4 linked regions of the Homo sapiens genome follow. The protein of the gene in region 1 purifies or fractionates together with the protein of each later gene. This does not show direct contact. Each region holds a gene or a part of one and is shown on either strand. Other genes may lie near its edges. The genes, in order: TRPV5, RNF138, ATF1 and NUP35.

Region 1 (7,871 bases):
ATCCTCGCCAACTTATGTGTAGTCCTTTTCTTCTTGAGCCAAGAAAAGATTGGTAGCATCTTTTCAGACATATTAAATCAAGACACGACATTTTTAAAATAAAAATATTTTTATAGACACATATATGGCATAGATGCAGTTATTTCTATATTTAATGTTATTTTGTTTCTGAAGTAATGTATTTGTTATTTATCCTCCTACTCACTACCTGACTCTGTGAAGGAGTTGGCATGTTTTACAATAAAAGACAGATGCTATAGAAACATTAAGATAAAGAAAAAGAACACAGTCCGTGAACTGAATTTCAGGAGAGAAGAGAAGGAATTCAAAGATAGCTGCTAGAGCTGAGGACAAAAAAACAAAACAAAACAAAACAAAAAAAACGCACAAAAAAAAACCAGACACACAAAAAAATAGAACAAAACAAAACAAAAACTCTGAAATTCTTTGGAAGCAAGTAAAAAAAGAAATTTGCTATTATATGATAAAATAAAATTTACCAGTTTCTCAAGAGATAAATGTCAGAAAAGTTTACAGAGCATACCATTTTTTAAGCCAAAAAAGAAAAAAAAAAGTGTTGACTGATGTCTGGTCACAGGTTGTTAGACCACAGAGTTCTCCAGACACACAGACAGAAGCTTCTCTCCTAGTCTCTCTTGGTTCCCTGTGTTAAAAGCACTGCCTCTCACCGGGCAGGTGAGTGTGCTGCTGCAGTAGAGTCTGGAGAGATGCTTACAGGTTCCAGCTGATTAGCAGAGCAGGGATAATTGCCGTTCCTTATGCTAACTAGGGACCACATTCTCCCTGGCTCAAATCATCAGCTTTCCTGCTGGCCCCAGGGGACTCTCAACTCCTTTCTTGGGTGCACTATTTGGAGATGTGACCTTGGACAACAGAGCTCCCAAAAGTCAAAAGGCTGCTTGCATGTGTTGAAATTATTTGTGCAATATCATGTGGGAATTGTCTACATGGGAACACAGTTTTGTAGAAAGAAGATATACAGTTTTTATTATGTTTTCAAGTGAGCTCATAACTTCAAAAACATAAGGATAATTAATGTAGGATTCTAGCACTACATCTGTGATATTGCATAAGTTTCACCGTGAAGTAACATGCATTGAAGTAGGGTGGTCTTCATTCCACCTTGACCCTTGGACTATACCTTCTACAACTACTGCTCAGGATAGGCAGGGACCCTTCCTCATAGTGTCTCTAGCCCCTTCTCTGCTCTTTTCTGTAATGTCAAATCATCATAAAACCACAGTGAATATATCTATAGTGATTTATGATTTATAAAGTTCATGTAAATATATCATTAATGTAAGCTTCACAATGACTCTGGGAGGTAAGCACTGTAGCCTCCATTTTACAGATGAGAAAACTCAAGTTCAGAGATTTTCCATGAATGGTTCAAGGTCTCACTAGAGGTAGTAGATTCCGGATCCGTGAGGGAACCTGAATTCTGTGATATGTTTACAGTGTATTCTTCCCACTAGAAGCCATGATGAGGTTGGAAAAGGTGGACTTTCCACATAGCTGAAACCATCCCAAGCCACTAATACCTCTTCCTGTTAGCTCACTTGATGCGCTGAAATGTGTTCTCAGCTGCTCAGTATATACATCATAAATTTCTGCTTACAGCATCTATAGAAAAGGCGATTTTGCTAGATGGTAGCTCAAGACATTAGCATATGTGACGTCTATTAAACCTTGGATACATAGACTCCTGTCCTGGTCACAGAGTTACCCACAATGGCAAGTACAATGGGGGTGGGGTGATGCTGGTGGGAAGGGGAGTTTCCTTTATTTTGGATGGGCTTTAGCAGCTTTCGATCATTTGCACAAAAGGATTTGACTCTGCCCATCAGAAAGCACTTCTTCTGAATTTCCCCACATAGGAGGCCTATGAGACACGTGAAGATATCATCAGGCTGGTGGGGGAGCTGGTGAGCATCGTTGGGGCTGTGATCATCCTGCTCCTAGAGGTGAGGGGCAGGCGGGGTCCAGGCTAATCCCATCCCATCTAAGGCCCAGACTGTACCGCAGTCCACATTGTATTTTTGCTTTGCCGTCCTCTCCCCAGATTCCAGACATCTTCAGGGTTGGTGCCTCTCGCTATTTTGGAAAGACGATTCTTGGGGGGCCATTCCATGTCATCATGTGAGTATCCCCTCATTCCAGCCCCCTGCCTTTCCTTACCAGAATCTTTTCCTGTCTCCAGCTCACTCTCTGAGTTCTAGGCCTCAGGTCACTCTCACTCCAAGGACTTCTCTCCAGTGGACTTGTAGGTGTAACTGTATGTGCGTTTTAGGTGTAAAGACTAAGCCTGAGTGTGTGGATACCACCCCGGTCACCACTATGCTGTAGGGACCTAAAATAGTTCCAGCTTGTCTCTCACTCTCTGCTTTCTGCTCCCCCAGCATCACCTATGCCTCCCTGGTGCTGGTGACCATGGTGATGCGGCTCACCAACACCAATGGGGAGGTGGTGCCCATGTCCTTTGCCCTGGTGCTGGGCTGGTGCAGTGTCATGTATTTCACTCGAGGATTCCAGATGCTGGGTCCCTTCACCATCATGATCCAGAAGGTCAGTGCTTTCCCGAAGCTTCCTCCGCCTCAGGCACAAGACCTTCACAGACAGAGGGATGGAGGTAGAATGGAGCTGGTAGAACTATGGGGGCCTCTTGATCTGTTAGCGTTAGCTGCTCAAAAGCAGTGGAAAAGGAATCATCCCACCCTTTCTTCCTTCTGTTTCCTGCAGATGATTTTTGGAGACCTAATGCGTTTCTGCTGGCTGATGGCTGTGGTCATCTTGGGATTTGCCTCCGGTAAGGCACCATACACTCCTCTACTAGATCAGCAGATCTAGTTCTCCAGAAAGTTCACTCTCATTCTTGCTCTCAGTTCTCATTTGCACTTCATTTTGCTTTCTTTTTTTTTGTTTGTTTTTTGTTTTGTTTTTTCCTGTTGGAAGGTAAGTCTAAAAGCACACCCATATTTATAGGACCAGGGGCCACTCAGGTTGGCCTGGAACGTAAAGCCATGTGTTCAGGGCCAATAAGATTTATGTTCACTAACTGCCTTGCAAGATCTTTAAAGGAGAGACAGGAAAAGACTTTTGGTGAGAACAGGGCATTAAACAGGAAAGACTGGCCAGTCATGGATCTCAGAAAACCATGTGGACAAACAGAGATAGTGCCATGCTTAACTCTCCTATGTTTACAATTCAGAAGAGGAAACCTAAAGCACTCAACAACATATAACTTGCTTTTTTTCTATATGTGGTCATTTAAAGCTGAGAAAAATATGAAAGAATTAGAAAAAGGAGGTGCAGAAAAACAGCTTGGACAGTTTGAAGATGACAGAGAAAACAAAAAAGAAGAGTTGTGAAGAGAGACTGGGAGAACAGGAACACACAGGCACCCAGTCAAGGCACAGCCAGTGAAAGTGCCAGGGAGCAAAAGAAAGGAACGGCACAGCAGGAAAACACAGGCAGGTGGAAACAGCCAGAGGGAAGGAGAGGGTGGGTGGAGGAGCAGAAGAAAGTCCTTAGGGAGGGGCAGAAAGAGGAAGGCCCAGGTCTGAAAAGCAAAAGGCCAGTAGCTCAAATTCAGTCCTCAGTGTCTGCAACTGACCATCTATTAGACAAGAAGAGGCACTAGAAGGATCCCCCCATCTCTAAAAAGCAATGACTCAGTGCAGAGGACTCTATTACTGTCCTCAGGGATTTCCCGTTCAATGGGGATTCCCACAAAACAACAGACCAAAACAAAAAACAAACAAAACAAAACAACAACAACAAAACCCCCACCAAAATCTGAAATGTGAAAGAGTAAAACCATGGCGTTCTGCCTGTTTGGAGTTTTCCACCCCAAGCCCTTATGTACCCTTTCCTCCCACTCCCTGGCCATCTACATCTATACATAACACAGATTACAAAATGAGGTGATGGTCCCAGAGTGGCTTTCTGTAGATGTCCTCTATCCAGAACTCTCTAAATGTTCACTTCTTGGCCATTGCACTTGCTTTTCTCTTAAATAAATAAGGAGGCAATGCTTTGTCATAGACCCTGTTTCTGCTCTCAGAATGTGCTTCAGCTCCCTATGCAGTGAGGAGGCTTTCAAGCAGTCCAGCGCTGTCCTGAAGTTCCCTTACGCTCACTGCTATCCAGTAGGCTCCACCCTAAGCAGGAATCCGTTTCCTATGTTGGTTCAGGTTCACTCAGGGAAGGTCAGAGTGATGGAGGGTTATCTAGAGGCCATCAAGATTAAAAAAGGGGCTCTTCTTTTAGCCTGTTCATGTGTTCTGTTCTTTAAAAATTGTTGAGGATTCCATACATTCTTGTAATAACTTGCCTTTTAAGTATTTGGTTTTCTAAAATGCAAAAACCAGTTAGGTGACCTATTATCCATTATCCATACAAACACACACGCTGCACACACAATTTTGTTGTTGTTAAATGACTATTACCATGACCATTACCCAGAGTGGTGAACTTAATCATAGGACATCTTAGGGTTAGACAGTTCCACAGGAAACTACATTTATTAGTATGTAATTATCTGTGCATGTGTGCAAGTGTATTTAGATAGATAGATAGATAGATAGATAGATAGATAGATAGATAGATCAGAGATAGAATAAGTGCTAACCATGTCCATGCTTATTGTGATAACTCCATTATCCCATCTCCATGTCCTCTTCCTGGGCGGAGCAGCGTTCTATATCATTTTCCAGACAGAGGACCCAACCAGTCTGGGGCAATTCTATGACTACCCCATGGCACTGTTCACCACCTTTGAGCTTTTTCTCACTGTTATTGATGCACCTGCCAACTACGACGTGGACTTGCCCTTCATGTTCAGCATTGTCAACTTCGCCTTCACCATCATTGCCACACTGCTCATGCTCAACTTGTTCATCGCCATGATGGGCGACACCCACTGGAGGGTGGCCCAGGAGAGGGATGAGCTCTGGAGGGCCCAGGTGAGTTTATTTGTGTTAGTCTTGCTAAGAAGCAGGGGTTGGAGAGAAAAATCAAAGTGGAAAATGTTATGGTGGATCATTCTTAAAAGAGTCACAGAAAAACCCAGTGAGGCTGTCACCTCAGAAGAGGTTTGTGTAAACCTGAGGTACATGTGGATAAATGGAAGGGACAGAAGGAGGATTAAATGGACGATAGTGGCAAGAGGTGGGGTTGTTGCTCACAGGGGAAAAGTAGACCTAGGATTGATCCTTGAGTCCAGTGGGAACTAGAAGTGACCTTGTTCTGGTATATTCCAGTTTTCAATTTGGATCTTATCTTCTATTTGCTTCTGTAAATCCCTGTTTCTCTATGATCTTTTCTTTATATCACCATAGACTGATAAATATTAGAATTAGAAGTGACCCTCAATGGCCCTCAAGTTGACCTCCTACTTAACATAATAATCATTTATTGGTCAGAATGTCATTCAATATCTTCTCTAATGCTGATTAGTACCTTATTATCTTGCAAATTCAGGTAGAGGTTGGGAGGAAGGGAGTTTTCCCATATTTTTAAAGATTTTGTTATTAGACATTTATGTCGCATTGAGCTAAAACCTATCTTCTTAAAATTTCATTCTTTGGCGCCAGTCTTTCCCTCTCATATATCACAGAACACATTCTTCCATATAAGCACCATTCAAATATTTGAATATAGCCATCATTTTTCCCTTAGACTTTTCATTCATTTAATGATGATCATTTAGACCCTGCTATGTGTTGACAAATGCCTAGGAGCTAGGGACATGAGCATAAACACAACAGACACCATATGTGCCCTCATGGAGCTGACGGTTTAGTTGGAAAGACGGGCATGAAGTGAATGACTTCACAAAAAGCTGTAAAATTACAGCAGCAAAAGTGCTATAGAGAATGTAAGGTGCTAAGAGGAGGATACAACAGAGGAATCGGACTGGGAAGTGAAGACATGCTTTCCTGAGGGAGCAACATTTAAGATGAGAACCCAAAGGTGAGCAAGAACTAGGTAGTTAAAAGGAAGGAGGGAAAAGGATGAAGGTCAAGGTTAGTAGCAATTAGGACTCTTGGCTACAGGGACAGAAAACCAAACTCAAACAGACTTGCAGATTTTTAAACAGGGGGAAGAGGATGTGTTAGTCCTCATAAATGGGAAGTTTAGAGAATTAAACTAACTTTAGAGGTATCTGGCCAGAATGCAGATCCACATCTTATACATTACATCCATTCCTCTGTTCGGCTCTCTTTTGACCTCTCTTCTAAGGCAAGCTCTCCCATCGTGTTTGTGAGATCATTTCTAGAAGCTCCAAACTCCAAAAAGAATGAGGATGTGCAATGCAACACGCAGCTCCGAGGGCCCCACTCACGTTGTATTCTGTGAGGCTCCTGGTGCCAGGCAAAACTGCAGGCTTTAAAAGAACATCTTTCCCCCTGCCAATTCCTTCCATGTTCCATCTCATGGGAACACATTCGGGTCATAGGCACATCGTTGAATCTAAGGAAAGACCAAGGACTAGATAGTGGAGGTGTTGGTGATGGTGGTGGAGGGGAGGTTTGGGGGAAAATAGATTAATTAAGCACAACTGTGTGAAGCCCAGTCCACTCAAACCAATGCACTAAAAGTGATGAGGGAGCAATTCCCTAAATGAAAAATGGGTGCTGTTACCCGAGGAAGGACGGGGCTGCATGATGGCTCAGGAGGAACAATAAACATTTCTTTCAAGGCAAAGAAGAACAGCTATCCAGGGTAAGAGCACAGAATGACTGGAAGTCCTGAGCTAGGAGGGAACTTGGTGCAATTAAGAAACTGAAAGAAGTGTGGAGTAATGAGGAAGATAGGGAGTAGAAAAACATGAGGTGAAGAATTTGCTATTTTGAAGATTGCACTCCTTCAATTAGGAAGCCTTCCTGGTTCTGATCTATTCTGATTGCACCCTTTTGTCCATGCTCTAATAGATCATGGTTTCTTTGAAACTAGAATAGTCCCCAGTATGATTAGGGCAATGCGGTACAAAGCGGGACTATGCCTTTCCTTACTTGGACATAATGCTAAGGGTACCTAAAGCTGAGTCAGGTCTTTTAGCAAATATACAAATGGCCCTTATTAAGCTTGTGATCAGCTAGCACTCCCACACCTTTGTTCTATGACTCACTTATCTAAGCTTCCTAAATGTAAATATAGGACCTTAGATTTGGTTTACTTAAATTTCTTGTTAATGATTTTACACCAGCATTCCAATCTAGCGAGATAATTTTATATTGCTTCTGTTGCCCCACATATTACATATCCCTCCCAGTTTTGTGTCACAGGCATATTTGATAAGCTTGTTTCCCATGTTTCATCTAAGTAATTAATGAGGGCTGAGCAAAGGACAGAACGTGTGGTGGACTTGCTACCAGAAATTTCCCTGCCAACTTGCAGTCATTAATCAACCCTTTTCCTTCCTAAGATGTGGATATTTAATTTGCTGAAAATTCCCTGAACAGTAACAGTATCAATTCATCCCCAAGATCGTAGAGATTCTCTTTAATCATTTTATTTAAATCGAGATAATTGGTCTGTGGCTTTTATATGAAAAAGAAGTTGAGATTAGTTTGGAGTGACTCATTCTCCATGAGTGAATAGTAATGTAAGGGCAACTATTTTATTCAAAACACTCACAAAAAATCCTCTCTCATTTCTTGATGAGTGAAGCTGGTTGCATGGTGCCTGGCACAGGCTGTGGGGTGAATAGGTGGCTGTTCTCACCACTGACCTCTAGTGTCCTATCTCACAGATTGCCTTTGGTTCCCTTTATCAGTGGCCTCAGTGCCTCTTTGAACCTCATGGCTCTTTCAGAGTTCTTCCTGTATCTCCTGCCTCCTTCCAGG
Region 2 (8,366 bases), on another chromosome or scaffold:
TCTTCCCCCATACCTTACCCTATGCGTCTCGTCATCTGTATCTTTTGCAATATCCTTTATAATATACCAGTAATCGTGTTTCTCTGAGTTCTGTGTGCTGCTTCAGCTTCAAGTTGCGGTTCCCAGAGCCCACTCTTTCGGTTTCATTAATTTGCTGGAGCAATATCCTTTATAATACACCAGTAATCATGTTTCTCTGAGTTCTGTGCACTGCTCCAGCAAATTAATGAAACCCAAAGAGTGGGCTATGGGAACCGCAACTTGAAGCTGGTTGGTCGGAAGTTCTGGAGGCCCGGACTTGTAAGTGGTGTCTGGGGGTATGGAAGCCAGTCTTGGGAACTGGGCCCCCAACCTGTGGGATCTGACACTGTCTCTGGGTAGGTAGGAACTGAATTAGAGGACACCCATTTGCTGTCTGCTGCTTGGTGCATGGGGAAAACCCCCCACATATTTGTTCACAGAAGTCTTCTTCTGTGTTGATTGTTGTGGTGCGTGAGAGTAAAGGTAAAATATGGTTAGAGTTTTCCCTACACAATTGGTTATTGTGGAGGTTAAAGAACTCCATCATGGATGTTAACATGCTAGGTTGACTTCTGATTAACCCCAGTTCCAGGAATGCCCCTAAGAGTTCTTCTTTATGATTCCTTGTGTAAAAAGAGCATGGTCTTAATCATAAATCCTGCCCTTAAGCAAATTATAGGCTGTAATGCACATAGTATTCTTGTCTTTCCCTCAGGGGTGAACTTTAATTTTCCTGCACATTATGTATACCCTTTCCTTATGGTCTGCAGGATAACAATACGAAGATCCACCTGTCTTGCTGCTGCCCAAGACCACACTTCCATCCACAAGTTCCCCAGTAAATCACCTGCTACCAGCAAACTGGATTTGTTTGCCTCTTCTTTGGATTTTTGGCTTCTTCTGCATTTGAGAGTCACTTTGCATATATAGCCCTTTCATGGAACAGTTGTGTATGTACATAGTCAAGAGTAATATTTAGCTAATATTTGCTAAAATAAAAATATTTAGCAACTGGAACCAAATTGGCACTGGTCATTCAGGACAGACTACTCACCAGTCAGGATGGACAAGGCTGAAAAAGACTAGGAAAATGGTACTGGTACAAACCAGCTGAGTGTCAACACTGCACATGGTAGCAATTTACAAAGATACCAAAGGGTAGAGAGTGAAACATGAGCCTCTCTCCTGTTCCATCCTCCAGCTTCCCAGTTCACTTCTTCAAAGGCAATCACTTTTACCAGCAAAACAGGATTTTGAAGGTTTGTAGTAAGATAAAGCCAGGCCTTGTCAAGAAATCAGTATTCTAAATTATTTTATTTTTCTCTTTTGCATATCAAGATCCATCGAACTTGACTGGAGAGTTTTATTTACTTATTTTGATTTTTTATTTTTTGAGACAGAGTCCCGCTCTGTCACCCAGGCTGGAGAGCAGTGGTGCCATCTCAGCTCACTGCAACTTCTGCCTCCTGGGTTCAAGCCACTCTTCTGCCTCAGCCTCTGGAGTAGCTGGGACTATAGGCATGCATACCATGCCCGGTTAATTTTTGTATTTTAGTAGAGACAGGTTTCGCCATGTTGTCCAGGCTGGTCACGAACTCCTGACCTCAAGTGATCTGCCTGCCTCGGCCTCCCAGAGTGCTGGGATTAGGAGCATGATCCACCACGCCTGGTCTTGACTGGAGAGTTTTAGAGCACCCAATCAGCAAGAAGTGGCAAGGGGAAAAGTCCATTCCTTCTAATCCAAGAGACTGTAGGAGAAGAAACAAAGTAGGGGCTTCATTCTGGGGGGGAAAGGTGGTTTAGATGGGTTGGAGTGTGTGCCCTGGAAGCACATGGCCTTACAGGCTGTTCAGAACCAGAGGGAGAACCACAAAGGATGTCATAGACAGTAGTTGTGTTGAGAGCCAGAGAGCCTGCTAAGGAGCCTGCCATGTTGAGGGTTAAGGAATTGGAAGGTGATCGTGGCAGGAATCAGAAGGTTTTACAGTGTTGGTGAAGCTAGGACATATCTCAGGGCCTTGGCCCAGCTGAGAGACAGGTCCGAGCAATCTTCATCAGCAAGTTTCAGCAAGAGAACACCCAGGACACATTACATCTCAAGGAGCAGAGAAAATTAGTCTGGCTAAAGAAAATCCGGCAAAAATGCAAAAGAGAACTTGCAGATTTCAGGAGCCAGATTCCCCTATAGTGCCTTGAGTTCATGTCAGCTACCCATCATCCTCCCTTCCCTTCTCCCAAATGCCATTCTGAGGGAAGCCCACTGAGAGGGACTGACTGGTTTAACCCAAACTTAAAGGAACTGTTTAAATTATTGCAGCACAGTTTACCAAATCGGTCTACATCTAGGGTTTTCCCTTCTAATGACCAAAGGCTGAGGACATTTTATTTACGCAGCTGAATGTATTTTGAGTAAATCTATGACATTCTTATAAAAATATCAAGTAGCTTTTCACCAGAAATGTTGCCAAGAAAGAAGATTGTGTCATTGGTAATTGCAACTTATTTTTTTAAGCTTAACTTTCCAAGGGTATCTATATTTTTCTTATGTCCAAGTTTTTGCTGGATTTCCACATATTGCCAGCTATATGCTTACGTGTATACCGAATGACTTATTAGAATATATGGGGGAGTGATACAAATATGTTTGGATTAGACATAAGTAAAGCTGCCGTTGCAGAGAAAGAATGAAGCAAATAAAATTAGGGTCACAAAATTAATGTTATGGTTAGATATTCCCAATGAATAATGGGAAACACTATTATACAGAAAATACACCTTACTTCCTAAATGGTCAGAATGAATGAAATGAGTGGAATTATCAAAAAAGTAAAATGTAGGCCAGGCACAGTGGCTCAGGCCTGTAATTCCAGCACTTTGGGAGGCCAAGGTGGGCGGATCGCTGGAGGCCAGGAGTTCGAGACTAGCCTGGCCAACATGGCAAAACCCTGTCTCTACTAAAAATGCAAAAATTAGTTTGGCATGGTGGTGCATGCCTGTAATCTCAGCTACTTGGGAGGCTGAGGCAGGAGAGTTGCTTCAACCTGGAAGGCGCAGGTTGAAGTGAGCTGAGATCATTCCACTGCACCCCAGCCTGGGTGACAGAGTGAGATTCTGTCTCAAAAGAAAAAAGAAAAAAAGTGAGTTTTCTTCTCTGGGCTGTTAAAAATTTGAACTCAAAGAACCATTTTATAAGTGAATGTGAAAAGCACCTGAACTACTGCTATTAGCTGCCCCTCTCGTCACGTGCTCTTCCTCCTTCCAGGAAATCTGAAGCTAGTATTAGCTTTCTTGTCTTGCTTCCACTGCGCTTGCTGCTAAGGAGGAAAAGCAACAAAAATACAAAATATAGTTTGGTAGAGGGAATTAGCTATTCATTGGACAAATTATTATTATTCTAGGAATCAATGCTTTTGAGATGTACATTAAAACCCATTTCCTCCATAAAGTTTTCTGTTAACTCTATATATTTCTAATCATTCCATTTCCTATCCTCATTATAGCCATCGTTTAATGCAAAATTTAATACTTTGGCAAATACCATTTTTTCTCTCTCATTCTGATAGATATGTAATAATGTAAACAGGTTGAGAGCAAAGTTCATGACATCTGCATAACACCTAACAATGCCAATGTCAACATAGACAATAAATGGCAGAATTGATTTAAATAGTCCCTTAAATGGCTTCTGTTTATTCATTTAGACCATGGGGGAGGGTTTTAACAAAGGATGGTAATAAAACCTTTCTTTTCTCTGAAGCTAATTGTAGATGCTGTATAATGTTCCAGATTTTCCTTAGCTTCTTTCACGTCATTGTGGATCCCATCTTATCGATTTATCCTTTTTTTGTTCTTCTTTTTTTTTGAGAGTCTCACTCTGTCGCCAGGGCTGGAGTGCAGCGGCGCGATCGCGGCTCACTGCAACCTCTGCCTCCCGGGTACAAGCGATTCTCGTGCCTCAGCCTCCCGAGTACCTGGGATTACAGGCTCCCACCACCATGTCCGGTTAATTTTTGTATTTTTAGTAGAGATGGGATTTCATCACGTTGGCCAGGCTGGTCTTGAACTCCTGACCTCAAGTGATCCAACCGCCTTCGCTTACCAAAGGGCTGGGATTACAGGTGTGAGCCACCGCGCCCGGCCTTTTTTCTTTCTTTTTTTTTTTTTTTTTTGAGACGGAATCTCACTCTGTTACGCAGGTTGGACCATCTTATAGATTATCAATTGTACAGATAATTGCACTCCGGCCTGGGAGACAGAGTGAGTACCTGTCTCAAAAAATAAAATAAAATAAAATAAAATTAAAAAAAACACTTAAATTAGTGAATAACCTTGGTGAAAAGCCACGTCCATGCTTCTACGGCATTTCTCTTCAAAGCTAAAAAAAAAAAGAAAAAATCAAAAATCAACCCAAAGGTGTAGTAGAAGACTGCATCTGCGACCGTATTTAAGCATCGGTCATGCTGTTAAAGGAGAAAGTGGACATCCTCTCAAGGAAACTTTAATCCTGCCCCCAAAGGATTAAAATCCCGTAACAAATATTTGTTTATAACACATCTTGACAAGATCAAAACATTCTGGTAGGGCAAATAGTAAAGACTAAATCTTGAACATTGACGAAAACTTCCTGAAAGGCCCAATGTATTTGACAGGAGAGGTAACTGGGGTCCCGGGCCTAGCGAGGCGGGGCGGGGAGGCGCAGGTGTCACCGCGGGCGCCCAGCTGCTTACGTCACAACCCGCGGAAGGCGCCGTGCGCCGGTTGCTATACAGGCCGCACTTCACACCCCGTGCCTCCCCGCCTCTCCTGGCTCCTCCGCCCAGATCCCCGGCGCTCCCGCGTTCGGTGACGGCCGGGTAGGCTGTAGGCAGCGCAATGCCAAGACAGAGCTGCTGGCGGCGGCGGGCGAATCTCCCTGCACCATGAGCCTCGGCTCCGGCCCCGTTAGGGGCCGATAAGCACAGCGCACGCCGCCCTCCATTTGCCCCGGGGCCTCGGCTGCGAAGATAGCGGCGGCCGGACAGGAAGCTCGAGGAAAGCGCTGGGCCGGGTCTCTACGAACACGTGAAGGAAAAGCAGCTCCGTCCACAACGCCGCTTCGGGGCTCCTAGGTGAGAGTCTCCCCGGCGGAAGCGTGGAGGGGCCGGGGTGCCGGGAAGCGGGGCGGGGAGGAAGCCGCGGACACGGGCTGGGCACTCGGGGCTCGGGGTCGGGGTGAGTAGAGGCGGAAAAGCAGTGAAAAGGGAGGCCTTGGGCGAAGACGGGGGCTGAGGGCGGGGCGCGAGCCCGCGCCTGGAGCCCGGTGAGGGCGTGGCCTAGAGCGTGAGGCCGCGTCCTGGGGCGGGGTGAGGGGCGAGCGGGGCGGGCCCACGGCATGCTGCGAGCCCAGCCTCCCGCCAAGCACCGTCCCCCATCCAGCCCCCTGTGGGAGGAGCCGTGGGAGGGGTCGCCTCTTGCCCGGCGCGTGCGGCAGTAGCGTCTCTGCGTTCGGCCCCGCCCTACCCAGGGCCCCGCCCCCTTCCTGGCGCGCGCTGTATCCTGATGCGATCCCCCTCCCCCCTCCGGGTTCATGTAGGGAGTCGGGCCCCGGGCCGCCACCGTCACCTCGGCCGCTGCCGCTGTCGCCATCGCCTTGTTTCCCCATCCCCCGCCATGGCCGAGGACCTCTCTGCGGCCACGTCCTACACCGAAGATGATTTCTACTGCCCCGTCTGTCAGGAGGTGCTCAAAACGCCCGTGCGGACCACGGCCTGTCAGCACGTGTGAGTAGACGCCCCCTCCCCCTCGCGGAGCCGGGTTGTCGCTTAGGCCCGGCCTCCGGCCCGGGACCCCGGGCTGCCGCCTGGCGGGAACCGAGCCCGCCGCGGCCTGCCCGAGCGTCGCTGCCCCGCGAGGTCCCGTTCCCCGCCCCTCAGAGTCCCGGGGCGGCCTTTTCCTCAGCCTCGGGGCCCGCTCCCCGCGTCCAGCCCCCTCAGCCCAAGCTCCCGCTCTCCCGCTCTCCCGCTCTCCCGCTCTCCCGCTCTCCCTGGCTTTCGCGCCCCCGGGGCAGTGGCCAGGCCGTTCCCTGCGGCGTCTTCAGGCCCCGGAGGCCCCTGTCGTCTCCGCCAGGCCCGGGAGGAATTGCAGGGATCTTGGAGCCTTTTTGTTTCTTAGCAACCCGGGTGAAGGCTGGGGTGTCGAGTGTCAAAAGCGGCCGGCGGTGCTCGCGCGGGCCCGCTCGCCCCGCGACCTGCCCTGCTTTCAAGTTTCCTCTTTCAGAACCTTGGTCCGTCCCCTCGGTCCAAGAGCTCTTCTGTAACTTCCCCTCAACCCTGCTTCACAGAACACCCTCGAGAGCGTTTTGTTTCGTTTCCAGTCCACTATGTGTTAGAGGGATCTAGAATGAGTTTTCTTCTCTGGTCTCTTAAAACTGACAGGATTTTCGGGCATTGAAATGAGCGTTCCCCTTTGTTTTACCTTTCTGCTTACTTATTACTTGATTAATACAAGGGTGGAGAGGAGAAAGGAAGACTTCTGTTATGAGGAATGAGCCGAAATTGAGATGCTACCCAGGGTGGGGGAGAACACAAAGGGGTTGGGTGAGATAACGCATGCGTTTGATTGGCAGGCATATTTACAAGAACTTTGATAAAATTTTATGGACAGCTAGGGTGTGAGTAAGGGTTGGAAAGAGCCCTTGTTGAGAAGGTGTATAGCCCTTCTGACAGACCTGACTGATGATCAGAGTCCCCGGGGAACTTTTTAAGTAAACATACCAATTCCCAGGCTCCATTTCAAACTTAACAAAAGAATGTTCGGGCAGGTGGGGCCTGGAAATCTTTATTTATTTATTTATTGTATTTTTTTTTAGTAGAGACGGGGTTTCACCGTGTTAGCAAGGATGGTCTCGATCTCCTGACCTCGTGATCCTCCCGCCTCGGCCTCCCAAAGTGCTGGGATTAAAGGCGTGAGCCACCGCGCCCCGCCCGGAAATCTTTATTTTTAAAAAACACACTCAGGCTTGAAAGTTACGTGTGTTTGCAAACAACTGAAAAGAATTGACCAACCTTCTAAATGTATTTCATTCTCCTTCGACTTTTTTTTCTTTTTTTTTTGAGGTGAGGTTCTATAATTTTGTAAAGGATGGATTGAATTTTTGGTTCTTAATTGCAAATGCCCTTACTGTGGCTGTTTTCTTGATACCAACTCTTCTCATTTTTTCCCCAATCTTAACTGCACTGTCTACTTTATTTCTATTTTGTGCTGGTTGTGTGAGCCAAGAGTGTGTGGATTTTCATGATAGAAATTATGCCAGTTACGCTTTTGCTCTTTAAGGGAGATGAATGACATCTTGTTATTTTGTGCAACAAATGCAGATTCTTAGGGAAATGTTTTGAGGGATCCTTTTGCGGTTCATAGTGTGATGATTGAGTGTTCACAGGCATGTGTGAGATATGCCATCCTCAAACCTTGTTACAGGGTCAGCACATTACCCATCTGACATGAAAAAAAAAACGTTTGGAGGTGTCTAGGGCACAATATAGATCTTCCACCTTTAATCTAGCATAACTTGGTCCCTTTCCAATATTTAAAAAAAATTTAAGTGCTGTGTTGGCATTGGGTAGATAAAAGGGAGGGAGGAGAGCAAGGTGAGAGGAAGTTGTAATAGCTGCTAACTATATATATATATATAAAGCAGGTCTTTTTTGGATAGAATCATTCTAATTATCCTTTGGGTCATTGACCTAATGGGCCTCATTGTAGTTTTTAGCACTCCCCAAAATTCCGTGTAGATTGCTCTAGTCCGCTTCCCTTGTGGGACATTTTAAATCAAGGTTTATAATTTGATTTGACCTCAAGACTGTGGAAAATGTTGGAGATGATTGTTTTTAATTCAGGACCTTTCTCAAATCAACTTATTGTACGTAGACAGTTCTGCCTGAACAATGAATTAAAAGAATAGGCAGAGGGAGAAAAAAAGTTTAATTTGGAAGAGGTGGTAATGGAGGAACAGGATTTTAATCAGTTGGAAGGAGTTTAGTGGGGGAATTGGAGAGAAATTTTAAAAATTATCGTTTTTTTTTGAGACATGGTCTTATTCTGTTGTCCAGGGTGGAGTGCAGTGGTGTGATCATGTTTCATTGCAGCCTTGACCTCCCCCGTTGGAGCAACCCTCCCGCCTCAGCCTCTCAAGTTGCTGGGACTACAGGAGCATGCCTCCATGCCTGACTAATTTTGTTTTCTTTTTTATAGAGACAGGGCCTCACTACGTTGCCCAGTCAGATCTTGAACTCCTGGGCTGAAGTCATCCTCCTGTCTTGGCCTCCAAAAGTGCTGGGATGACAGGCGTGAGGCATGGCACCTGACCT
Region 3 (7,871 bases), on another chromosome or scaffold:
GAGATGGAGTTTTGCTCTTGTCACCCAGGCTGGAGTGCAATGGCACAATCTCAGCTCACTGCAACCTCTGCCTCCCAGGTTCAAGCGATTATCCCGCCTCAGCATCCTGAGGAGCTGGAACTACAGGCGCGTGCCACCAGGCCTGGCTAATTTTTGTATTTTTAGAAGAGATGGGGTTTCACCATGTTGGCCGGGCAGGTCTCAAACTCCTGACCTCAGGTGATCGCCTGCCTCGGCCTCCCAAAGTGTTGGGATTACAGGCATGAGCCACTGTGCCTGGCCTCCAGTATATGTGTTCTGTTTCTTTTGTTAAATTCATATCTAAGTATAATTTAAATTTATAAATTTAATTTTAAACCTTTTATACTTTGTTATTGTAAATAGAATTGTTTTTAAGTTTCATTTTTGGATTAGTCATTGCTAGTATATGGAAATACAGTTGATTTTTGTTATATTGATCTTATATCCTACAACCTTGCTGGAACTTGTTGATTAGTTCTATTTTAATAATTCTTTAGGATTTTGTATATATAAGATACTGTCATGTACAAAGTGTTTTACTTAGTCCTTTCCAATCAGGATGCCTTTTATTTAATTTATTGACTAATTCCCTGAGTGCAATGTTTAGAAGTGGTGAGAGGGGATATCCACATTATTTTCTTATTAGGATGTTAGTTGTGGGTTTTTCGTAGACCCTTTTTATTAGGTTGAGGAAGCAGCCTTCTATGTATTTGTTGAGCAGTTTTATCATGAAATGGTAACTGGATTTTTGTCAAATGCTTTTTCTGTGTCTTGCGATGATCATATGTTTTTTGTTTTGATTCTATTAATATGATGTATTACATTAATTGATTTTCAATTATTAAACCAATTTTGCATTTCAGGGATAAATCCTGTTTGGTCATGGCATATACTACCTTTTACATGTTGTTGGATTTGGTTTGCTAATATGTTGTCGAGGATTTTTTGTGTCTATATTCATGAAGGATATTGGTCTAGTTTTACAATTGCCTTTTAATTGGTGAGTGTAGGCCATCTTCAGTATTGGCTGATCTTCCACTTTATTATTTGCTTTCTGTTTATTCTGTTTTTAAAATTCTTCTGTGTTCCTGCACCTGCATTATTTTGGATTATTTGAAGACTTTTCAAAATTTAATTTTTAAGCAACTGTATATTTGACTAAATCTTTTTGTGTAGTTTTTTTTTAGTAGTTGCTCTAGGGGTATATAGATACCTAGCTTTTTATAGTCTACATAGAATCACTATTTTACCACTTCAGGTGGAATGTAGAAACCTTACCACCATATTAGAACTGTTTATATTTCCCTCTTTATGTTGTAGATGTCTTATATATTACCTCTGCACACATTAAAAACCCCATCAGAATTTCATAATTTGTTTTCAGCCATCAAATTGATTGATGGATTGATTGAAACAGAGTCTCGCTCTGTCGCCCAGGCTGGAGTGCAGTGGCATGATCTCGGCTCACTGCAACCTCCCAGGTTCAAGTGATTCTCCTGCCTCAGCCTCCCGAGTAGCTGGGATTACAGGCGCCTGCCACCATGCCCAGCTAAGTTTTTATCTTTGTAATAGAGACGGGGTTTTGCTATGTTGGTCAGGCTGGTCTCAAACTCCTGACCTCAGGTGATCTACCTGCCTCAGCCTCCCAAAGTGCTGGGATTACAGGCATGAGCCACCGCGCCCAGCCATCAAATATATTTTAAAGCAGCAGTTCCCAACCCTTTTGGCACCAGGGACCAGTTTCGTGGAAGACAATTTTTCCATGGATAGGGAAGTCAGGGGATGGTTTCAGGATGAAACTGTTCCATCTCAGATCATCAGATATTAGATTCTCATGAAGAGCATGCAACCTAGATCCCTCGCATGGTCACAACACGGTTCACATTCCTATGAGAATCTAATATGCCACTGATTTGACAGGAGGCAGAGCTTGGGTGCTAAGGCTCGCTCACCCGCTGCTCACCTCCTGCTGTGCAGCCTGGTTCCTAATAGGCCACAGACAGGTACCAATCCACGGCCTGGGGTTTGGGGACCCCTATTTTAAAGAATTCAATAGGAGAGGAACTGTCCATTATATTTGCCCAGATATTTCTGTTGCTGTTTCTTCATTCCTTAACTTTCTTTCGTCTTAAGAATTTTCTTAGCAGTTGTTTTACAGCAGGTCTGCTGGCAATTATTTCCCTTAGTTTCCCTTGATGAGAATATTTATTTGACCTCCAAGTCTGAAGGATGTTTTCAGTAGACATAGAATTTTGGGTGCCAAGACCCAGGAGATAATTCTTTTTTCTTTTAGCACTTTAAAAATGCTATTCCATTATCTTCTCACCTCCATAGTTTCTGATGAGCACTCTGTAGTCATTCACAATGTTCTCTTGTAAGTAATGTGCCATTATTCTCTGGCTACTCACAAGATTTCTTTAACTTTAGCTTTCAGCAGTTTGATTATGGTAAGTCTGGGCAATGATTTATTTGTGTTTATCCTGTTTAGAGTTTGCTGAGGTTTTTGAACCTGTAGGTTTACGTCTTTCACCAAATTTGGTAATTTTTCAGCCATTATTTTTTCAAGTATTTTTTCTGCGCTATACTTTTTTCCTCTCTTTCTGAGACTCTAATGACATAAATCTTAGATCTTTAATTATTGTCGCACAGGTCGCTGAGAATTAGATAATTTTCCAATCTCTTTTCTATGTTCAGATTGGATAATATCCATTGAATAATCTTCAAAGTTGATCGTTTTTTCTCTCATTTCCATTCTACTATTGAACCCATCCAATGAGGTTTTATCTCTGTTACTGTGTTTCTTAGCTCTGAAATCTCTATTTTATTCTCTTTATATGCTCTATTTTTGGCCGAGAGTTTATACCTTTCATTTCAAGAAAATTCACTTACTTGTTGGAACAGTTTAATAATAGCTTCTTTAAAGTCCTTGTCATATAATTCCAACATTTGTATCATCTAGGAGTTGGCTTCTGTCAACAGTCTTTTCCCGTGCAAGTTGAGATTTTTCCTTGTTCTTTGATACCAAGTAATTTTGGACTCTTTGAATATTATGCTATCAGACTCTGGGTCTTGTTTAATAAAAAATGTTTTATATTCTTGTTGCATGTGCATGTGTGTATTTGGGACAGGGACTCGTTCTGTCACTCAGGTTGGAGTGCATGGCACAATCATGGCTCACTGAAGCATCAACCTCCTGGGCTCAAGTGATCCTCTGCCCTCAGCCTCCTGAGTAACTGGGACTACAGGTACACACCACCATACCTAGCTAATTTTTGTATTTTTTGTAGAGACAGGATCTCCTTATGTTACACAGATTGGTCTTAAATTCCTGGACTCAAGTAGTCCTCCCACCTCAGCCTCCCAAAGTGCTGGGATTACAGGCATGAGCCACAGACCTAGACTATATTCTTGTTTTAGAAGGTATCAATCTGGTTGTGTCCAGGCCACAAGTTCTGATCAGCCTTCTGTGGGTTGTGGTTCCAATGTCAGTTCAGTTTCCAAAGTCTTTGCAATGCTATTCATATCTATTACACATGTGCACCAGGTAGTGGCCAGTCTAGAATTTGGGCAATGGTGATCTGTCCTATACATAGTTAAGTTCTAAAAGTCTACATATGCTAGGGAAGCCCATTTTTATTCATTTTTGGTAGAAATGTATGAGGTGCTGGATTTAATCAAATACTTTTTTTCCCAGCATTTATTGAGTTGACTGTATTGTTTCTGCCAATTCTCACTTACGTGGTTTATGTCCTTGCACGTTTGATGATTTTTGAGTGAATTCGTATTTGATTTATACTAATCTGTGGCAATCCAGAAAGCTTAACTTTGAGAAGTTTCTTTTCAGATGTTATAGCCTTCCTGAGAGACCCCTACTTAATAAAGAAATCTCAGGTTCAGGCTGGGCATGGTGACTCACGCCTGTAATCCCAGCACTTTGGGAGGCCAAGGTGGGCAGATCACGAGGTCAGGAGATTGAGACCATCATGGCTAACACAGTGAAACCCCGTCTCTACTAAAAAATACAAAAAATTAGCCAGGTGTGGTGGCGGGCGCCTGTAGTCCCAGCTACTCGGAAGACTGAGGCAGGAGAATGGCATGAACCCAGGAGGCGGAGCTTGCAGTGAGCCGAGATTACTCCACTGCACTCCAGCCTGGATGACAGAGCGAGACTCCATCTCAAAAAAAAAACAACAACCATGAAACTACCCAAATTAATCATTATTACTATTGTTCTAAAAAGCCAATGCTAACTGAAATGAATTGTCTTTGTTCACCATACTTTCTCACATTTATATTCCTTTCATTTTCTTCTTCCTGAAGTATACACTTAAGTAGTTTCTTTTTTCTTTTTTTTTAGAGATGGAGTCTCACTCTGTCACCCAGGCTGGAGTGCAGTGGCACGATCTCAGCTCACTGCAGCCTCCGCCCCCTGGGTTCAAGCTGGGACTACACGCATGTGCCACCATGCCTACCTAATTTTTTTATTTTTAGTAGAGATAGGGTTTCTCCATGTTGGCCAGGCTCGTTTCGAACTCCTGACCTCAAGTGATCCACCCGCCTCGGCCTCCCAAAGTGCTGGGATTACAGGCGTGAGCCACTGTACCCAGCCTCCTTAAGTAGTTTCTTAAATCAGTTTGAAAATGATTATTATTTCACCGTCATTTTTGAAAGACTGTTCAGTAGGCACAGAATTCCAGGTCAAAAGTTACTTTCTCTTTGAATTTAAATATTGGAGCCTGAGTACAGTGGCTCATGCCTGTAATAGCAACACTTTGGGAGGCTGAGGTGGGAGGATCACTTGAGCCCAAGAGTTTGACACCAGCCTGGTCAACATAGTGGGACTCTATCTCTACCAAAAATTAAAAAAAATTAGGTGGGCATCATGGCATATGCCTATAGTCCCAGGTACTCAGGAGGCTGAGGAGCTGACCCCAGGAGGTTGAGGCTGCAGTGAGCTGTGATCACACCACTGCACTCCAGCCCAGGCAACAGGGTGAGACCTCCGTCTCAAAAAAACATGTAATAATTTAAAGATAAAAATAAGGATTTTAGTTCATTGTCTTATACTGTACTTCAAAAATCTGTTGTCAGCTTACTGGTCCTTCCTTTCTAGGTAATTGGTCTTTTCACTTGGAAGCTTTTAGCTTTTAAGATCTCAGGTTTATCCTTGGTGTTCTCCAGTTTTACTTTACAACATACACCTAGATGTAGGTTTCTATTAATTTATCTTGTTTGGGACCTTGCTTTCTTATGCTGAGAAATTCATATCCTGGAAATTGCAGTCATTATCATTTTCTCTCCTGGAGAGACTAGAAGCTGGAAGTGCCCTTCCCTCTTCTCTCCTTTTATCTATGTATGTTGTGTACTGGACCTTCTCATTCTGTGTTCTATCTTAACTTTGTCTTTCTGTGTTCCATTCTAGGTAATCTACTCAGAGCTGTATCCTCAGGTTCTCTCATTTTGTCTTCAGTTACGGGTATTAACCCCTTATCAGATAAGTGGTTTGCAAATAATTTTTTCCCAGTCCGTAAGTTGCCTTTTCATTTTGTTGCTTTGTTTCCTTTGCTACACAGACACGTTTTTTAGTTTGACGTAGTCCCATTTATTTATTTTTTTGTAGCCTAAGCTTTTGGTGTGATATCCAAAAAATCATTGCCAAGGTCAATGTCGAAGAGCTTATCGCCTATGTTCTCTTCTAGGATTTTTATGGTTTCAGGTCTTAACATTTAGGTCTCTTATCCATTTGGTGTTGATTTGTGTAATGGTGTAAGATAAAGATTAAATTTACATTTTTTTTTTTTTTTGAGACAGAGTCTTGCTCTGTTGCCCAGGCTGCAGTGCAGTGGCACAATCTCGGCTCACTGCAACCTCCGCCTCCCAGGTTCAAGTGATTCTCCTGCCTCAGCCTCCCAAGTAGCTGGGATTACAGGTGTGCACTACCACACCCGGCTAATTTTTCTATTTTTATTAGAGACGGGGTTTCACCATGTTGGCCAGGCTGGTCTCAAACTCCTAACCTCAGGTGATCTGCCCGCCTCAGCCTCCCAAAGTGCTGGGATTACAGGCATAAGCCACTGCATCCGGCCAAAGGTCCAATTTCATTTTTTCTTGGAGACAGGATCTTGCTCTATCACCCAGGCTGGAGCACAGTGACACAATCACAGATCATTGTAACTTCAAACTCCTGGGCTCAAGCCATCTTCCCGCCTTAGCCTCTAAGTAGATGGGACTACAGGCGTGCGCCACTATGTCCAGCTAAGGTTTGTATTTTTTGAAGAGACAGGGTCTTGCCATGTTGCCCAGGCTGGTCTTGAACTCCTGGGCTCAAGCAATCCTACCTCGGCCTCCGAAAGGGTTGGGATTATAGGCGAGGGCCAACCAATTTCATTCTTAACACTGACGCGTGCTAACTTCTTTAGTGTACTTTGCACAGCACCTCTTGAACTCATTTGGTACTATCATAACATGCAGGGCTTCATACAAGAGAGTACTCACCTGTAAGATGGGCGCCGTGCTAGGATCCCGTGGGCTTTCTGTGAGGAGCCTATGCTGTCGGATGAGTCCTGGGACTCCTCACTTTCTGATAAAGATGATACCTAAAAAAGAACTGGCATTAACATGATGAACAATGCAGGTGGGAAAAGAAACAACTGAATTTTTACTTTTAGAAAAAAATGATCTGTCTCCTGCCACTCCAATTCATTTGTACATTAAATCTAAAGTCTAAAAGAAAGGAACAAAAGGAAAAGGAAAAATGAGAAAGTTTATTCCAGGAGCCCAACCTATTAAAGGAATATCAAATATAGCAGGCCCAGAGCTGAGAATAAAGTCTGTCCCCCAAATGAAGCAGTACTATTTTACCAGAGTTAAAAAGACCAGGCTCTGATGTCATTCTCCACCCTATTTCTACACTGATGCACATTACTTAAAAGTGTTGTTTTATTACTAATCTACCTGACATGCTAAGTTTGAAAAACCTGTTATATATTCAACTGCTGACATTGAGACGAATATTAAATATACAAGCCTGTAGGTCTGGGAAGAGGTCTGGGCTAGATACATAAATTTTGGAGGTCTAGCTTTTTAGAGTCCTTAAAGCCATGAGACTGGATGAGCTCATAGGGGTAAATAGAAGAGGACTGAGGACTAACCTCAGGAACACTAAGAGACTGGATGAAGAGGAGGAACCAGCAAATGAGACTAAGGAGTCACCAGTAAAGAAGAGAACCAAATGATTGAGCTGTCCATGGAAAACTAGTGAAGACAGCATACTGAGGAGAAAAGAATGATCAACCATGTCCAATGCTGTTTACAAGCTGAGATAAAATAAAGACTGAGAACAGACCATTCGATTTAGCAAGGTGGAGGTCACTGGCAATGGCAGGTATAAATATATGCCATTTTAAAATCTGTATGATTCAATTTTATCTCATTTCACAAGTTAATACATGCAACACTTGGCATGCATACAATGTTAATTTTTATAAACTACATCAATATAATATGCAAGTTATAGCAATATTTTACAATTGAGAAAACAAGTTGTTTTCAATTTTTTTTTAAATATTTTTAATTTTTTTATTTTTGAGACAGGGTCTCACTCTGTCACCCAGGCTGAAGTGCAGTGGTGCAATGACAGCTCACTGTAGCGTCGCCTTCCTGGGCTCAAGCAATCTTCCAGCCTGAGCCTCCTGAGTAGCTAGGATTACAGGTGCACACCACCATGCCCAGCTAATTCATTTTTTTTTATTCTGACAGGGTCTCATTATGTTACCCTGGCTGGTGTCAAACTCCTGGGCTCAAGCAGGCCTCCCAAAGTGCTGGGATTACAGGTATGGGTCACCATGTCT
Region 4 (7,871 bases), on another chromosome or scaffold:
GATTGTCTCAAAAAAAAAAAAAAGCCATTTTATGAGAGACTATAAAAATGTAAATGTAAAAGAAGAAGAAGAAAAAAAACACACCAGCCCAATTGCTATGGATATAGGACTGAGTATGGACTTTCTAGAGAACAACGGAATGCAATGACCCGCTTTTTACCCAAATAGAAATCAATAACACATAAAATCTCTCTGGAAACATACACAAAAAACAGATGGCAATCACTGCCTTAAAGAGGAGGAAAACTAGCTTGGGACAAAAGCAAAAGGGAAAACTTCATTGTACATTCTTACATACCTTTTGAATTTTTAATTTTAAATAAATTGAATACATAAAATCCACTAAACATTTACTATGCACCTTTCTTCCTTCAAGGAGCTCATGTGTTATTTTTATGTTTTTTAATCCCAAAAAATATATAATAGATACATTCCAGTATCAGCATGTGATACAGTTCAGCTGTGTCTCCAACCAAATCTCAACTTGAATGGTATCTCCCAGAATTCCCATGTGTTGTGAGAGGGACCTGAGAGAGGTAATTGAATCATGGTGGCTGGTCTTTCCTATGCTATTCTCATGATAGTGAGTAAGTCTCACAAGATCTGACGCGTTTATCAGGGGCTTCCGCTTTTGCTTCCTCATTTTCTCTTGATGTCACTATGTAAGTACCTTTTGCCTCCCGCCATGATTCTGAGGCCTCCCCAGCCATGTGGAACTGTAAGTCCAATTAAACCTCTTTTTCTTCCCTGTCTCAGGTATGTCTTTATCAGCAGCATGAAAATGGACTAATACAGTAATTGGTATCAGTAGAGTGGGGCATTGCTGAAAAGATACCCAAAAATGTGGAAGTGACATTGGAACTGGCTAATAGGCAGAGGTTGGAACAGTTTGGAAAGCTCAGAAGAAAATGTGGGAAGTTTGGAACCTCCCAGAGACTTGTTGAATGGCTTTGACAAAAATGCTGATAGTGATATGAACAATAAGTTCCAAGCTGAGGTGGTCTCAGATGGAGATGAGGAACTTGTTGGCGACTGGAGCAAAGGTGACTCTTGTTATGTTTTAGCAAAGAGACTGGTGGCATTTTGCCCCACCCTAGAGATTTGTGGAACTTTGAACTTGAAAGAGATGATTTAAGGTATCTGGTGGAAGAAATTTCTAAGCAGCAAAGCATTCAAAAGGTGACTTGAGTGCTATTAAAAGCCTTCCATTTTAAAGGGGAAACACAGCATAAAAGTTCAGAAAATTTGCAGCCTGACAACGCAGTAGAAAAGGAAAACTCATTTTCTGAGGAGAAATTCAAGCTAGCTGCAGAAATTTGCATAGCTAGAAAGGAGCCTAATGTTAATGCCCAAGAGCATGGGGAAAATGTCTCTAGGGCATGTCAGAGCCCTTCAAGACAGCCAATCCCATCATAGGCCTGGAGGCCCAGGAGGAAAAAGCGGTTTTGTGGTCCAGGCCCAGGGTCCCTGTGCTGTGTGCAGCCTAGGGACTTGGTGCCCTGTATCCCAGCCCCTGCAGCCGTGGCTGAAAGGGGACAATGTAGAGCCTGGGCTGTGGCTTCAGAGAGTGGAAGCCCCAAGCCTTGGCAGCTTCCACATGGTATTGAGCCTGTGGGTGCACAGAAGTCAAGAATTGAGGTTTGGGAACCTTCACCTAGATTTCAGAAGATGTATGGAAATACCTGGATGCCCAGGCAAAATTGTGCTGCAGGGGTGGGGCCCTCATGGAGAACCTCCGCTAGGGCAGTGCGGAAGGGAACTGTGGGGTCAAAGCTCCCACACAGGGTCCCTACTAGGGCACTGCCTAGTGGGGCTGTGAGAAGAGGGCCACCATCCTCCAGTCCCCAGAATGGTAGATCCACTGACAGCTTGCACTCTGTGCCTGGAAAACCCATACACGCAATGCCAGCACGGGAAAACAGCCAGGAGGGAGGCTGTACCCTGCAAAGCCACAGGGGTGGAGCTGCCCAAGACCATGGGAACCCACCTCTTGCATCAGCGTGACCTGGATGTGAGACCAGGAAGTCAAAGGAGATCATTTTGGAGCTTTAAAATTTGACTGCCCCTCTGGATTTTGAACTTGCATGGGGCCTATAACCCCTCTGTTTTGGCCAATTTCTCCCATTTGGAATGGCTGTATTTACCCAATTCCTATAACCCCACTGTATCCAGGAAATAACTATCTTGCTTTTGATTTTACAGGCTCATAGGTGGAAGGGACTTGCCTTAACTCAGATGAGACTTGGGACTGTGGACTTTTGGGTTAATGCTGAAATAAGACTTTCAGGGGTGTGTTGGGAAACCATGATTGGTTTTGAAACGTGAGGACATGAGATTTAGAGGGGCCAAGGATGAAATGAAATGGTTTGGCTGTGTCTCCACCCACATCTCAACTCAAATTATATCTCCCGGAATTCCCATGTGTTGTGGGAGGAACCCAGGGAGAGGTAATTGATTCATGGGGGCCAGTCTTTCCTGTGCTATTCTCATGATAATGAATAAGTCTCACGAGATCTGATGGGTTTATCAGGGGCTTCCGCTTTTGCTTCTTCCTCATTTTCTCTTGACACCGTCATGTAAGAAGTGCCTTTCACCTCCCACCATGATTCTGAGGCCTGTCCAGCCATGGAACCCTAAGTCCAATTAAACCTCTTTTTCTTTCCAGTCTCGGATATGTCTTTATCAGTATGAATAGGGACTAATACAGTATGGCAAATCATACTTTCAGAAACAAACTTTATATTTTTGTAGAGTGTAAATATCAGCTTGAATATCAAAAGACCCAAGTTTTTGCTGGAGCTTTGCTAATAATAACTAGATGTGAACGGCTGAATAAATCACTTAATCTGCCTACACCTCAGTTTCCTCACCTGTAAAATAAAACATTATACAATATGATCTCTAAGGAGTTTTACTGTGATAGATATATATACATACAAAATGGAATACTCAGCAGTAAAAAGGAATTAATTAATGGCATTTGCAGCAACCTGAATGGGACTGCAAATTATTCTAAGTAAAGTAACTCACTTATTCTAAGTGAAGTAACTTAGGAATGGAAAACCAAACATCATATGTTCTCACTCATAAGTGGGAGCTAAGCTATGATGATGCAAAAGCATAAGAATGATGCAATGGACTTTGGGGACTCGGGGGAAAGGGTGGGAAAGGGGTGACGGATAAAGACTACAAATTGGGTTCAGTGCCTACTGCTCAGGAGATGGGTGCCCCAAAGTCTCACGAATCATGTAAAGAACTTACTCATGTAACCAAATACCACCTGTTCCCCAAAAACCTATGGAAATAAAAAAGCATTTTTTTTAAAAAAAGGCATTTTAAAGTTTTTTTTGGACCTAAAAATCTATTCAAAAATGTAACAAGGACTGTCATACTGTTTCTATTAATATTCAATACTTTGTGGACCAGAAAGTATCAACCCTGTGACATTGTGTGTGTGTGTGTGTGTGTGTGTGTGTGTGTGTGTGTGTGTGTTTGTAAATGTTCATTCTGTTAATTCAAAACTGGTGAATTCCACTAGATGTAGAGAACCAGTCACTAGAAAAAGGGGAAGGAGTTCCCTAAGTCTAAAGGGACAACTGTGTTCCATCTAGTAAATATGCTTGAGAGAAAATAATTTGGGAAGAAATAAACAGACAAATGATTTAAAAAACTACAAACAAATATCAAACTCTAGTTAATGACATGCATGCTCAAGTGTCAGGGTAATATGTATTGATGTCTACAACTTATTATGAAATGTACCAACAAAAAGAATGAATTGATAGATGGATAAATGACAAAGCAAATGTAGCAAACTGTTAACCATAGAACCTAGGTGGTAGTAATATGGGTGTTTGCTATGCACTTCTTTCCATTTTACTGTATGTTTGATTATATTCATTATAAAATGTTAGGGTGGGGTTTTTAAAAGGCAAATGGTCTGCAAACCTTACCCAAATACAGTCACCCAAGAGTCATCGAGGTGATCTTCTGAAGTCAAAGAATCTCCTTGAGTATAAAAAGGATCCAACTGGGCAGGAGATAATGTCGTCTTTCGTGGCTGACCGATACTTGCTGGACTAAACATACTTTGCCCTATATTAGTATATTTAGCAAGTTAGTTGCCAGTGTAAACACCTCGATTGATTCTAAATCAAAAATCTTAGTTTTAAATGATAAAGTCTAATAAAGTTGGCAATTACATAAACAGTTCAAAACATACAACTGTGGTCAAATAGCAATTTCATGCTACCATACAATTAGAGGAAGTAATAATTGGGCATAGTTTATAATTCTGCAAATGTTTTATTATGTATGATAAATTATCTAAATGTTTTATTAAGCATGTCTGGTTAAGCTGACACCAGAAGGATATCCCAGGCAACCTCAAAGACTTCTGTTGGTTTCATCTTCCAAACCTACCACTTTCATCACAGCACCTCTGCCTTAAGAACATGTAAAAATGTATTACCCACAGAACAAAATCCGAATGCCTTGGCCTCAGCTATACAGTTGCAACCTTACTTTTCCAGTATGCACTAAACAATATCTACCTTACCCCTTAAAATGTGAATGCAATTTTCTTTTATTCAGGTCATTTCTTTCTAAAATGTCTTATCCTTTTATTTCTTATTCTTCAGTAACAGCCACCAATTGAGTACTTCTGTGTGTCCAACATGCCATGCTAAACACTTTATAAAGTTCATTTTATATCAGAAGCAATGTCCAATTAAGGCTATACATTTGAGAGAAGCAAAGACTATTTCCCTTTCATCTTCACAGTAGCAATAATGATTTACTCATTCAAAACATATTTTATCAGCACTTAAATATGCACCAAGCATCAACCTAGGTATTGAAGGTATAGCAGTAAACACATTAGACAAATAAAAACAAAAAATCCATCCCTATTGGAGCCTACATTCTAGCGAAAGAGAGACAAATAAGTAAATACTTAATGTGCTACAAAACTAAAAATCCTACAGAGAAAAAAAAATAAAGCAGAGAAGGGAGACAGGGCCAATTTGTGTGGGTGGGTTAAATGAAAAAGGATTTCACTGAGGTGCATTAAAGCAAAAACCTGAAGGACAAGGGAAGCAAAACAATATTTGAAGAAGTGAACATTTTGTGGAGAAAATAATAAAACAAAGGCCATGAGGAAAGACATGATTGGTCTTAGATGAACGCAAGAAGGCCACTGTTTGCACAGTGAGGGGGATGTGAGATGAGAACAAGGAGATGCGAGCAGAGAGGCAGCAATATGCCGGATCATGAAGAAAAACCTTATAAAGCCACTGTAAAAGCTAAAGCTCTAAGCGAGGTAGAAAACCAACAGAAAAATCTGAGCAAGCGTGACATAACAGGACTAAAACTTTGATAGTAAAAGGTAGCATTTTAAGGGCCAGGCCAGTGGCTCACACCTGTCATCCCAACACTTTGGGAGGCCAAGGCGAGCGGATCATGACGTCAGGAGTTTGTGACTGGCTTGGCCAACATGGTGAAACCCCATCTCTACTAAAAACACAAAAATTAGCCAGGTGTGGTGGTGCATGCCTGTAATCCCAGCTCCTCTCAAGGCTGAGGCAGGAGAATCGCTTGAACCCGGGAGGCGGAGGTTGCAGTGAGCTGAGATAGCACCACTGCATTACACCCTGGGTGACAGAGAGACTCTGTCTCAAAAAAATAAAAAAATTAAAAAAAAGGTAGCATTTTATTAAGTGATTATTACACTTTACGAGTGTAATTTTATTTAATTCTAACAATCCTACAAAAGGTCCAATTAGTCCATTTAACAAATTAGGAAACAGGATAATATTAAATAACATCCAGAAGGTTAGTTGGAATTCCAATCCAGGCAATCGGAATCCAAAGCATGAGCTCTGAGGCAGTAATCTAGTTAACATGTTTATTTCCTGTGGCAGTACTACAAGTGTGGTCTGGAGATTCTTGGCTCCCCCAGGACTCTCTCATGAGATCAGCCAACTCAAAATTATTTTCACAAAAACATGAAGTTTCATTTGCCTTTTTCTCAGTCTCTTATTAGTGTACAGTGGAGTTTTCCAGAGGCAACTTCATGTGATTCAACAGACTCAGGTTGAAAAGAGAAGCAGATTCATGAGAATTCACAGGTATTTTATTAAGCCAGACACTAAAAAGATTTTTAAAACAAAAACAATGTCACTCTTCCTGCAAATCTTTTTTTCTTTAGAAAATAGTTACTGTTCACTTCAAAAAAGATTATGTTTATATGAAATAGCTTTATTTTTAAATGAGTTAATACTTAAATTTTAAATTTTGTTTTAATTTTGAATGCAGTAAATATTGATAGCTATAATCTATATAAACAAAAGCTCTTTAATTTTTAAGAGTATAAACAAGGTAAAAACTACAAAACTAAGACATTTGAGAACCACTGTTCTACAGGTCAATGCGCATGAGTCATGCTCCATTTTTATTGATTTTCTAGAGGCTACTTAACATATTCTAACTATTGTATGTATCTCCTGACTTGCCATTTATCCTTAATTCCCAAATGAGTTGAAAACCATCCTAACTCATTCCAAAGTGTTTATAGTCACATGGATTTCTCCAAGTATGTTCTTAAGAAACAAAAAAGATTATCTATAGAAGGTGGGGGGAAAAGCTACTGTGATAAAAAGCTTGGCTTTGCACTGTGGCTCGTGACTGTAATCCCAGCGCTTTGGGAGGCCAAGTTAGGAGTTCAGGACCAGCCTGGGCAACATGGCAAAACCTTATCTCTACTAAAAATACAAAAAATTAGCTGGGCGTAGTGGTGTGTGCCTGTGGTCCCAGCTATTTGAGAGGCTGAGATGGAAGGATCACTGGAGCCTGGGAGGTGGAGGTTACAGTGAGCCAAGATCATGCCACTGCACTCCAACCTAAATGACAGAGTTTAAGACTCCATCTCGAAATATATCTATAGATATATTTGATAAAAATAACCTGTTAAAGAAGTGGGCAAAGAACATGAATAGACATTTTTCAAAAGACATACAAATGGCTAAGAGGTATATGAAAAAATGCTCAACATCACAAATCATCAGAGAAATGCAATTCAAAACTACATCATCACCTTACCCTAGTCAGAATGGCTATTGTTAAACAAAAAAACAAACAGATGCTGGCGAGGATGCAGAGAAAAGAGAACTCATACACTGTTGGTGAGAACGTAAATTAGTACAACCTCTATAGAAAGCCATATGGAGATTTCTCAAAGAACTAAAAATAGAACTACCATTCAATCCAACAATTTCTCTTACTGGGTATCTAACCAAACGAAAAGAAATAATATAACAAAAAGATAGCTGGACTCATAAGTTTATCACAGCACTATTCACAATAGCAAAGATATGGAATCAACTAAGGGTTCAACAATGGGTGAATGAATAAAGAAAATGTGGTGTATATATACAACGGAATATTATTCAGCCATTTAAAGGAAAGGAATCAATTTTGCAGCAACATGGATGGAACTGGAAGTCAGTATCTTCAGTGAAACAACCCAGGCACAGAAAGACAAACATCACATATGCTCACTCATAAGCGAGTGCTTAAAAAAGTATTCACAAAAATCAGTAGCATTTCTATACACCAATAACATTCAAGCTGAGAACCAAATCAAAAATGTAATCCCATTTACAATAGCCACATATCAAAAAAAAAAAAATTAAAATACCTAGGAATACATCTAACCCAGGAGGTGAAAAATCTCTACAAGGAGAACTACAAAGCACTGATGAAAGAAATCGCAGATGACACAAATGGAAAAACATTCCACGCTCATAGATTAGAAGAATCAGCATCATTAAAATGACCATATTGCCCAAAGGAATTCAACACAATTCCTATCA

The links.
Region 2: the proteins of TRPV5 (region 1) and RNF138 purify together in Homo sapiens (affinity purification with mass spectrometry; 3 studies listed by BioGRID and IntAct, with this or other methods). This does not show direct contact.
Region 3: the proteins of TRPV5 (region 1) and ATF1 purify together in Homo sapiens (affinity purification with mass spectrometry; 3 studies listed by BioGRID and IntAct, with this or other methods). This does not show direct contact.
Region 4: the proteins of TRPV5 (region 1) and NUP35 purify together in Homo sapiens (affinity purification with mass spectrometry; 3 studies listed by BioGRID and IntAct, with this or other methods). This does not show direct contact.

The regions. Positions count from the first base shown.
Region 1 is NC_000007.14:142,909,596-142,917,466, reverse strand, and holds part of TRPV5 (transient receptor potential cation channel subfamily V member 5), read left to right. Parts: intron 1-1,898; coding exon 1,899-1,985; intron 1,986-2,083; coding exon 2,084-2,160; intron 2,161-2,420; coding exon 2,421-2,586; intron 2,587-2,760; coding exon 2,761-2,827; intron 2,828-4,716; coding exon 4,717-4,985; intron 4,986-7,870; coding exon 7,871-7,871. UniProt on the Homo sapiens protein: Constitutively active calcium selective cation channel thought to be involved in Ca(2+) reabsorption in kidney and intestine. Required for normal Ca(2+) reabsorption in the kidney distal convoluted tubules.
Region 2 is NC_000018.10:32,087,107-32,095,472, forward strand, and holds the start of RNF138 (E3 ubiquitin-protein ligase RNF138), read left to right. Parts: upstream 1-4,767; 5' UTR 4,768-5,129; intron 5,130-5,581; exon of another isoform or gene 5,582-5,593; 5' UTR 5,594-5,670; coding exon 5,671-5,780; intron 5,781-7,397; exon of another isoform or gene 7,398-7,500; intron 7,501-8,366. UniProt on the Homo sapiens protein: E3 ubiquitin-protein ligase involved in DNA damage response by promoting DNA resection and homologous recombination.
Region 3 is NC_000012.12:50,794,655-50,802,525, reverse strand, and holds part of ATF1 (cyclic AMP-dependent transcription factor ATF-1), read right to left. Parts: intron 6,629-7,871; exon of another isoform or gene 6,618-6,628; coding exon 6,517-6,617; intron 1-6,516.
Region 4 is NC_000002.12:183,147,732-183,155,602, reverse strand, and holds part of NUP35 (nucleoporin NUP35), read right to left. Parts: intron 4,096-7,871; coding exon 3,954-4,095; intron 1-3,953. UniProt on the Homo sapiens protein: Functions as a component of the nuclear pore complex (NPC).